Homo sapiens: one gene and its partners. The protein of the gene in region 1 purifies or fractionates together with the protein of each later gene. This does not show direct contact. Each region holds a gene or a part of one and is shown in the gene's direction. Other genes may lie near its edges. The genes, in order: LAMP1, RAB4A and TMEM192.

Region 1 (3,088 bases):
AGAGATACACAACGCCTTTTATAGACAAGATCTTTTGCAGTTTTGTTCTAATACTAGAAATGTAGGAAGTCAGGTTTATTACCCAATGACCATTCACGTTTGATGATAAATGTGTGAATCTACTGGGGTTAAAGATCATCTTTCTATGAATCTGCTCCGTGATTAAAGATCATTTTTCTTTTTAAGAATGCAAGTTCTAGCCGGTTTTTCCTACAAGGAATCCAGTTGAATACAATTCTTCCTGACGCCAGAGGTGAGAACCCACAATCTCTGCGAGCCCCGCCCCCGCCCGCGCGCCCAGGGTATTCTGGAGCCACTAGACCTCTGTGTGTGTTGCAGACCCTGCCTTTAAAGCTGCCAACGGCTCCCTGCGAGCGCTGCAGGCCACAGTCGGCAATTCCTACAAGTGCAACGCGGAGGAGCACGTCCGTGTCACGAAGGCGTTTTCAGTCAATATATTCAAAGTGTGGGTCCAGGCTTTCAAGGTGGAAGGTGGCCAGTTTGGCTCTGGTGAGTGTCACCGAGGGCAGCTGTCGCGGGGTGTGGAGGACGTGCTTCAGACTCCGCCTGTGGACGTTTAGTCGCTTCCGTGTGGGCTGGGGCGACGCCCCTGTTCCTCTGCAAGGAGCTGTTTCTTCTTGCCGGTCTGAGATTCTAGAGGTAACTCCCCCTGCTTTAGAGAGGCCCAGCGTGTCTCTCAGCTGGGAGCCCCTGGTACCATTTGAGAGTAAGGGAATCATTTTAAGAAACAGTGGTGGCGCTTCTCCCATGAACGTTGAATACAACACTGTCATCTGATGTGCACAGAGGCCCTGGACGCAGCACAGCTGTCCGGCCACAGCCCCTGATTCCAGACGGGGGAGAGACGTGTGTGGTTTCCTCGCCGTGCAGAGAGCACCAGTCTCTGCAGCGGCTTCCCCAAGTGACAATTCCAGCTAGAGCTGGAACCTTCCGCCAGGGTTCCTCTTTGCCTTTTGGCTGATGTGGGGGAGTGGTGGGGAGAGAGGCCTGTTTGCAGGCCCCTGTGTGAGCAGAGCCCTGACACCATCCGTCTGTCTTGGCAGTGGAGGAGTGTCTGCTGGACGAGAACAGCATGCTGATCCCCATCGCTGTGGGTGGTGCCCTGGCGGGGCTGGTCCTCATCGTCCTCATCGCCTACCTCGTCGGCAGGAAGAGGAGTCACGCAGGCTACCAGACTATCTAGCCTGGTGCACGCAGGCACAGCAGCTGCAGGGGCCTCTGTTCCTTTCTCTGGGCTTAGGGTCCTGTCGAAGGGGAGGCACACTTTCTGGCAAACGTTTCTCAAATCTGCTTCATCCAATGTGAAGTTCATCTTGCAGCATTTACTATGCACAACAGAGTAACTATCGAAATGACGGTGTTAATTTTGCTAACTGGGTTAAATATTTTGCTAACTGGTTAAACATTAATATTTACCAAAGTAGGATTTTGAGGGTGGGGGTGCTCTCTCTGAGGGGGTGGGGGTGCCGCTGTCTCTGAGGGGTGGGGGTGCCGCTGTCTCTGAGGGGTGGGGGTGCCGCTCTCTCTGAGGGGGTGGGGGTGCCGCTTTCTCTGAGGGGGTGGGGGTGCCGCTCTCTCTGAGGGGGTGGGGGTGCTGCTCTCTCCGAGGGGTGGAATGCCGCTGTCTCTGAGGGGTGGGGGTGCCGCTCTAAATTGGCTCCATATCATTTGAGTTTAGGGTTCTGGTGTTTGGTTTCTTCATTCTTTACTGCACTCAGATTTAAGCCTTACAAAGGGAAAGCCTCTGGCCGTCACACGTAGGACGCATGAAGGTCACTCGTGGTGAGGCTGACATGCTCACACATTACAACAGTAGAGAGGGAACATCCTAAGACAGAGGAACTCCAGAGATGAGTGTCTGGAGCGCTTCAGTTCAGCTTTAAAGGCCAGGACGGGCCACACGTGGCTGGCGGCCTCGTTCCAGTGGCGGCACGTCCTTGGGCGTCTCTAATGTCTGCAGCTCAAGGGCTGGCACTTTTTTAAATATAAAAATGGGTGTTATTTTTATTTTTATTTGTAAAGTGATTTTTGGTCTTCTGTTGACATTCGGGGTGATCCTGTTCTGCGCTGTGTACAATGTGAGATCGGTGCGTTCTCCTGATGTTTTGCCGTGGCTTGGGGATTGTACACGGGACCAGCTCACGTAATGCATTGCCTGTAACAATGTAATAAAAAGCCTCTTTCTTTTTGGGGTGGGCCTTGTCCTTCTGTCAGCTAAAATGGGAGCTCATGAGAGAAGGACGTCAGGGAAACGGGGTTGAGGGTGGTCTCGGTGCAGAGAGAAGGGTGTCAGGGAAACGGGGGGTGAGGGTGGTCTTGGTGCCAGACGTAGGGAATGGTGTTGGGAGTGGCCCGAGTGCCTGGCACAGTTGTCTGGTTCATTCATGTAACATGATAATTTTTAAATCATTAAAAAAATTACCTTTCATACAGATACCATGGAATACTATGCAGCCATAAAGAGGTATGAGATCTTGTCCCCTGCAGGGACACGGATAGAGCTGGAAGCCATTATTCTCAGCAAACTAACACAGGAGCAGAAAACCAGACACCACTTGTTCTCACTTGTAAGTGGGAGCTTCTGATGAGAACACATGGACACAAGGAGGGGAACATCACACACTGGGGCCCGTTGGGTCGGGGGCAGGGAGAGCATCAGGAAGAATAGCTAAGGGATGCTGGCTTCATACCTAGGTGACAGGATGGTCTGTGCAGCACATCACCACGGCACACGTTTACCTGTGCAACAGACCTGTACACCCTCCACCTGTACCCAGAAGTTAAAAGTTGAAGGGAGAAAATGATCTTTCTAAAGAGAAATCACCTACTACGTGCAGAAGCCTCACATAAACTGCACGCTCTGTCACAGAAAGGAATGGAATATTGACACTGCCGCTGTAAGACCTCAGTGACCACTCACTATGTTAATTTCCAGTCAGCTGAGAAACTGATCACAAACACAGGTGTTGGCATACTTTATTAGATACAAACCCACACTCACATTTTATATATTATTGATCTCTCAGGTAAAAATAAGTTTTCTTTAAAAAGTATGACTTCATAGCTA
Region 2 (3,754 bases), on another chromosome or scaffold:
CAGATTTTCAGATTAGGGATGCTGAACTGGTAAGTATAATGGAAATATTTCAAAATCTGAAAAAATCCAAAATACTTCTGGTTTCAAGTATTTTGGATAAGGACTGCTCAACCTATATTTGGATAAGGACCGCTCAACCTATGTGTTACCATAATTCATGAGCCAGTCTACTTTGGACATTTGGGTTGTTGCCAGTATTTTGCTATTATAAGTAATGTTACAGTAAATAATTATATATATATATATATATATATATATATATATATATATATATATATATATATTTTTTTTTTTTTTTTACATGTGCATGAGTCTGTGTGTCAGACAAATGCCCAGAAGTGGAATTGCTGGGTCAGAGAACATAAGCATTTGGGATCTTGGTGTAGAGGCTGTCACATTTTCTCCTAGTGATGGGCTTATTTCACTAAAGCCATGTCCACAGCATGTAGTATCATCATACTTGGACTTTTGGCCCATCTAATAAGTGAAAAATTATATCTTTGTAATTTAATTTTAAATTATTTTATATAAATAATGTATTCACATAATTTGAAATTCAAGAAGTATAAAAGAGTATGCAATGAAAAGTCCCCCTGTTACCACCCCCTCCTGTCCTCAGCCATCTAGAACTCCTCCGAATCAGCCGTTCCTTATGTATCCTGCTAGAGATGTTTTGTGCCGGTGCAAGCAAACATATATATAGTTTTTTCCCTTTATTCAGAATGGTGGGATATATACACAGTGTTCTGTACTTTGCTTTTTTTTTTTTTAATCTATTTTTGGAATCAAAGAAACATAAAAGCCTTTTTTAAAAGAAGACTTGCTTGGTCCTTAGGTGAGCTGGACCCAGAAAGAATGGGCTCAGGTATTCAGTACGGAGATGCTGCCTTGAGACAGCTGAGGTCACCGCGGCGCGCACAGGCCCCGAACGCTCAGGAGTGTGGTTGTTAGGAGAGCACACAGGTGGGTTTGGACACCTCCCTGCCCTGAGTTCCTGGCAAGCTCAAGTGCAGAGGCCTGTTAAAGCTTTGGGAAGCTGCAGTATGAAAAAGAGGGGATCCCAGCCGGGTGCAGTGGCTCTAATTCCAGCACTTTGGGAGGCTGAGGTGGGCCAGTTGCTTTAGTTCAGGAGTTCGAGACCAGCCTAGGCATCATGGTGAAACATCATCTCTACAAAATACAAAAAATTAGCCAGGCGTGGTGGCGTGCACCTGTAGTCCCAGCTACTCATGAAACTTAGGAGAATTGCTTGAGCCTGGGAGGCGGAGGTTGCAGTAAGCCAAGATCATACCACTGCACTCCAGCCTGGGCGATAAAGTGAGAACTGTCTCAGAAAAAAAAAAAAGAGAAGGAGAAGAACCCATAAGTTAAAGTTGGATGTTCTAACTGAAAGAATTTATACTCTATAGGAAATTCTTATGCTCTTGTTCAGAAAGAAAGGAAGGGCAGGTGGTGGTTGATGGGAAGGGTGAGATATCCTGATTCCTTATGTCAGTGAGGAGCCCTTCCTGGATTGATTGAGGTCTAAATGAATGTGCCTTTTGCTAAAACAGGAGGCCTATTTATAAAATTGACAAATGTCTCCCTTTAACTTTTTAAAGCTTCTTCTTTTTTCCCATTTACCACAGTGGACGTTTTATTTATAGTCGACATCATGTAGTAGGCACAGGCAAGTGTTAAAAGACAAGATATTCACGAATTCTCTTTTAGGCTTTAAGCTGTATTTACTTTTGCATTTATAGTTATGCAGATTTTGAAATTGTTCTTAATATTTTTTAGGTGTTCATACAGTGGCATTTGGGACACAATCGTTGGAACCTGAAGAATCTGAAGTTTTTTTTACCACCATCTTTTTCTACTCTGTATGGAAGTAGATCTTTATGGGGAAAAGAGAATTTGGGGTGTTCTGCAAGCCAGTCAAAGTGGCACAGCAAATCATATAAATCGAATTAAATGGACAACACCGTTAGATGTGTATGTAAAAATTTTCTGTTTCATATTTTTCCTTTCACTTTCGGTTTAAAACATGCTATATGTACTGTATGTCCTGTAGCCCAGTGCGGCTCCACAGCATGGAATCTGATGTATGATATGATAGAATGTGGCACTAAATGCAGTTTCAGATTTTATTTTTTTTAATCATATGAACTAAAATTGTCAATTGTGAGGTGTGCTTTTCTCATCATGTTGGTTATATTGCACAATTGGTTATATTTATGACCTGATATTCAAAGACTCTGGCATTGATAGCCAGTGTGTTTTCTTATTTAACTCCGTTTACTACATTCTACATGGTGTTTACGTGATCCACACTTGAAATACTAGATCAGTAGACATTCACTAATATACCAAAATAAAATGAAAAATTGAGTTTTTCCGTGAACTTTATACTGTCCAGCTCTGTTGATTTTAAAGCCTCTTCATCCAGGTCAGTTCAGGAAGTATATCTGGAGTACCTGCTCTGTTTTTGGCTGTGAGACTAGCACTAAGGATTCTGGTACCTTTACCCAAACCTACTGGGCTACTAATACTTCTCTCAGCAGTTGATCAAATACAATAGACCATGTAAGCTGGGGCCGCTCATCCACTTCCAGTTTGCTGGTCTCCCTGCTAGAAAACACATTGTACTGTGCTTTTTCTGGAATTCAGTATAATGGCATCACTGCCTGTTTTTCACATCTTTTGTTTCCTGTTCATTTTAAGGAAACCTACTAAATCCAGTTAATATTAAATGGACACCACTCATTAAGAAATTTCTTTATGGCTTCTGCTGAATACTTAAATGCCTTACTACAGTTATCCAGTTGACATGTTTTTAATTCATATAAGGTATATTGGGTATATTGAAGTATATATTGTATTACAAAGACTTGTTCTTGTATTTTAAAATGTCAGTGCAAAAAATATATGGTGGAACCTTTCTTTAAAGTTGAAATGCAGTATTATTTAAATCTGAAAGGTTAAAAAGCTTTCTTCACCTTATATATGTTCTTCCACTGTGACTTTTTAGTTGAAGACTAGTAAATTAACTTTTAGTTAGAAGATGCCTACTGCTTTTGTTGTTTATTTTAATCAGCAGAGCACAGAGACACATAAAAACTCTGGGAAATGACTAGGATAAAAATATCAGTATGTATCTGTTTTAGATATTTTGAGTTTTGCTTTTTTTATGCCTTGAATATTTTATTTCAAAAAGTATCTGAAGCAAATTCTCAGACTGAACTACTTCTTAGACCTCACTGTAAGAATATTTTATTCAATGTCTCATTTATGATAGATTTGCAAGCTGCTCATTTTTGAACAGCTTTTTGCATGGGATAGGAGCATGTCTATTCTAACACATCAGCTTATTCAAAAGCAAGAATTTTAAAAATAAGATAAATGTAAAGTTGTTTTATAAACGATCCTGTTAATTAAACCACAGACACCATATATCCTTCTGCATCCTTTGGCCAATAAAAGTTGCTGGAGAACCAAACCATGGTGGTTCTTAATCAGGCTTTGCCTTTAGGGAGAATGAGGAGGAGAGATAATTGGGTATTGTTCAGGCTAGTAATAAATGTCATGTTTCTATTTCCCGCAACTCATTAAGTTTTCAGGAAGCTCTTAATTTAGATTTCTAGGAAAGTAATTATTCAGTCTTCCTAGAAAAAGATTATAAAGACCATTTAAACTGGAGATTGTAATTTATTCTTTTACAGTCCAGCATTTAAGTGAAAATGAGAACATCACAATTTGGGAATCTGTAATGGTT
Region 3 (3,754 bases), on another chromosome or scaffold:
TGTCCCAGGATATTCTTTTTCTTAACAACTAGAATCTTCTGGTTGGGCGTGGTGGCTCCCGCCTGTAATCCCAGCACTTTGGGAGGCCAAGGCAGGCAGATCACTTGAGGTCAGGAGTTCGAGACCAGCCTGACCAACATGGAGAAACCCCATTTCTACTAAAAATACAAAATTAAGGCTGGGCGCAGTGGCTCACACCGGTAATTCCAGCACTTTGGGAGGCCGAGGCAGGCGGATCATGAGGTCAGGAGTTCGAGACCAGCCTGACCAACATGGAGAAACCCCGTCTCTACTAAAAATACAAAATAGCCAGGTGCAGTGAAGTGCACCTGTAATCCCAGCTACTCAGGAGGCTGAGGCAGGAGAATTGCTTGAACCCGGGAGGTGGAGGTTGCAGTGAGCCGAGATCGCACCACTGCACTCCAGCCTGGGTGACAGAGCGAGACTCTGTCTCAATAAATAAATAAATAAATAAATAAATCTTGAATACAAAACTCACATCTGGTAAACTCTTGAGTTCTTGAAGAATCAAACTTTGAATATGTGACAATCACAAATTTGAGATCTCAAAACATTCTCTAGGTTTCCTAAGGAAAATTGTTTCATTCGCAAACCAGGGAAGCCTATCTCTAATTCTTCTCCCTTCCTCTCTATCCAGTCTCACCTTTCACTCTACTACTCTACTGAAACTGTTCTTGGCAAGGTCACCAATAGCTTCCTTCCACATTGCTTAAATTGGAGATGAATGCATACGTCTCCTCTTTTAACTTATCAGCAACACTTGGCTCAGTTGATTGAGGGGGGGTCTGCCCCTCCACACCTGTGGGTATTTCTCGTCAGGTGGGACGAGAGACTGAGAAAAGAAATAAGACACAGAGACAAAGTATAAAGAAAGAACAGTGGGCCCAGGGGACCAGCACACCCAGCATGCGAGGACCTGCACCGGCGCCGGTCTCTTGAGTTCTGTTAGTATTTATTGATCATTATTTTTAATATCTTGACGAGGGGAGTGTAGCGGGGCAACAGGTGGGGAGAAGGTCAGCAGGGAAACGTGAGCAAAGGAATCTGTATCATGAATAAGTTCAAGGAAAGGTACTGTGTCCGGATGTGCATGTAGGCTAGATTTACGTTTCTCTTTACACAAACATTTCAGTGTAGCAAAGAGTAACAGAGCAGTATTGCTGCCAGCATATCTCGCCTCCAGCCACAGGGCAGTTTTCTCCTATCTCAGAATAGAACGAATGGGAATGGTCAGCTTTACACCGAGACATTCCATTCCCAGGGACGAGCAGGAGACAGAAGCCTTCCTCTTATCTCAACTGCAAAGAGGCCTCCCTCTTTCACTACTCCTCCTCAGCACAGACCCTTTACAGGTGTCGGGCTGGGGGATGGTAAGGCCTTTCCTTTCCCACGAGGCCGTATCTCAGGCTGTCTCAGTGGGAGGAAACCTTGGACAATACCCAGGCTTTCTTGGGCAGAGGTCCCTGCGGCTTTCCGCAGTGCATTGTGTCCCTGGTTAATCGAGAATGGAGAAAGGCGATGACTTTTACCAAGCATACCACCTGCAAACATATTGTTAACAAGGCACATCCTGCACAGCCCTAAATCCATTAAACTGATCCAATACAGCACATGTTTCTGTGAGCACAGGGTTGGGGCTAAAGTTATAGGTTAACAGCATCTCAAAGCAGAAACAATTTTTCTTAGTACAGATCAAAATGGAGTTTCTTATGTCTTCTTTTTCTACATAGACACAGTAACAATCTGATCTCTCTCTTTTCCCCACAGTTGATCACTTCCTCCTTGACTCTTTATTTCAGCTTGGCTTCCAGGACACTACATTCTCCTCATTTTCTTCTACTTCACTAGCTTCTTCTTTTGTCTGCTTTGCAAGTTGCTTTTTGTTGGTATTCTCCAGGGCTCAACCCCTGGGCCTCTTGGCTTCTCCATCAGCGTTCACTCTCTTGGTGGTCTCACACAATCTCATGACTTTGATAGAATTTATGAGCTGATAATTTCCAAATGTGAATCTTCAGCCAGGCCTTCCTCCCTGAACTCCAGACTTATGTGTCCAACTGCCCCTTCTAGATCACTACTTGGGTATATAAAAAAACACCTCAAACAGAACATGTCCCCAGCTGAGCTATCTGCCACAGTCTCTTCCACCCCTGTAATGGCAGCTCCTCTTTCTCTCAAACCCTATAGACAGTTAATCAGCAAATCCTGCTGGCTTTTCCTTTAAAACATACCCAGAGTCCAACCAATTCTTGGCACCCCCAATGCTACTTCCCCAGCCACTATAATCTTCACCTGGACTATTATAATAGTCTTTCGGTTTTTTGGTTTTGTTTTTTTTTTTTGGGGGAGGGAGTCTCGCTCTGTTGCCCAGGCTGGAGTGCAGTGGCGCGATCTGGGCTCACTGCAACCTCCGCCTCCCAGGTTCAAGTGATTCTCTTGCTTCAGCCTCCTGAGTAGCTGGGATTACCGGCACATACCACCACACCCAGCTAATTTTTTTATATTTTTAGTAGAAAGGGGGTTTCACCATGTTAGCCAGGCTGGTCTTGAACTCCGGACCTCAGGTCATCCACCCGCCTTGGCCTCCCAAAGTGCTGCAATTACAGGCATGAGTCACTGTGCCTGGCCCTATTATAATAGTGTTTTTCTTTTTCTTTTTCTTTCTTTCTTTTTTCTTGAGATGGAGTCTCACTCGTGTCGCACAGGCTGGAGTGCAGTGGCGCAGTCTCGGCTCACTACAACCTCCGCTGCCCAGGTTCAAGCAATTCTCCTTCCTCAGCCTCCTGAGTAGCTGGGATTATAGGTGTGCTTTTTTTATTTTTAGTAGAGACGAGGTTTCACCATGCTGACTAGGCTGGTCTGGAACTCCTGACCTCATGATCCTCCCTCCTTGGCCTCCCAAAGTACTGGGATTACAGGCATGAGCCACCACACCTGGCCTATAAGAGTCTTTTAAGTGATCTTTCTGCTTCTCACTACCTCTCCACCCTGACCCCCCAGCCCCATGCACACACACAAAAAGCAGCCAACAATATCCTTCTAAAACACTACTCTGATGGTTCCCTTTTTCATTCAGTAAAAGCCAAAGCCTGGACAGTGGCCTTCAGGGACCTAGAAAATCTCCACTTCCCACCCCACCCCACCTCCTCTCTCCTACTCTTCCTTTGTGTACCCTGCGTCGGTCACACTGTGGCTTTTGGATTGCTAAGCACATTCTTACCTGAGGACCTTTGCGGTTGCTGTTCCCTCTGCCTGGAAGGATCAACTCCCATATATCTTTTTCAAGTCTTTGTTCAAATGTCACTTGTGGCCAGGTGTGGTGGCTAACCCCTGTAATCCCAGCACTTTGGGAGGCTGAGGTGGGTGGATCACTTGAGGTCAGGAGTTGGGAGACCGGCCTGGCCAACACGATGAAACCCTGTCTCTACTGAAAATACAAAAATTAGCCAGGCGTGGTGGCACGTGTCTGTAATCCCAGCTATTCAGGAGGCTGAGGCAGGAGAATCACTTGAACCTGGGAGGTGGAGGTTGCAGTGAGCCAAGATCGCACAGCTGTACTCCAGCCTGGGTGACAAGAGTGAGAATCCGTCCCCCCCCCAAAAAAAAAAAATCCTCCCACTTCAGTCAGCCTCCTGAGTAGCTGGGATTATAGATGTGCACCACACCACCACACGTAACTTTTATTATAGTATATTGCTATAATTATTCTATTTTGTTATTAATGTTGTTACTCTCT

What was found.
Region 2: the proteins of LAMP1 (region 1) and RAB4A purify together in Homo sapiens (affinity purification with mass spectrometry; 2 studies listed by BioGRID and IntAct, with this or other methods). This does not show direct contact.
Region 3: the proteins of LAMP1 (region 1) and TMEM192 purify together in Homo sapiens (affinity purification with mass spectrometry; 3 studies listed by BioGRID and IntAct, with this or other methods). This does not show direct contact.

The regions. Positions count from the first base shown.
Region 1 is NC_000013.11:113,321,218-113,324,305, forward strand, and holds the end of LAMP1 (lysosome-associated membrane glycoprotein 1 precursor), read left to right. Parts: intron 1-186; coding exon 187-253; intron 254-339; coding exon 340-510; intron 511-1,064; coding exon 1,065-1,204; 3' UTR 1,205-2,455; downstream 2,456-3,088. UniProt on the Homo sapiens protein: Lysosomal membrane glycoprotein which plays an important role in lysosome biogenesis, lysosomal pH regulation, autophagy and cholesterol homeostasis.
Region 2 is NC_000001.11:229,302,027-229,305,780, forward strand, and holds part of RAB4A (ras-related protein Rab-4A), read left to right. Parts: intron 1-835; coding exon 836-951; 3' UTR 952-963; intron 964-1,779; 3' UTR 1,780-3,754. UniProt on the Homo sapiens protein: The small GTPases Rab are key regulators of intracellular membrane trafficking, from the formation of transport vesicles to their fusion with membranes.
Region 3 is NC_000004.12:165,071,165-165,074,918, reverse strand, and holds part of TMEM192 (transmembrane protein 192), read left to right. Parts: 3' UTR 1-3,754.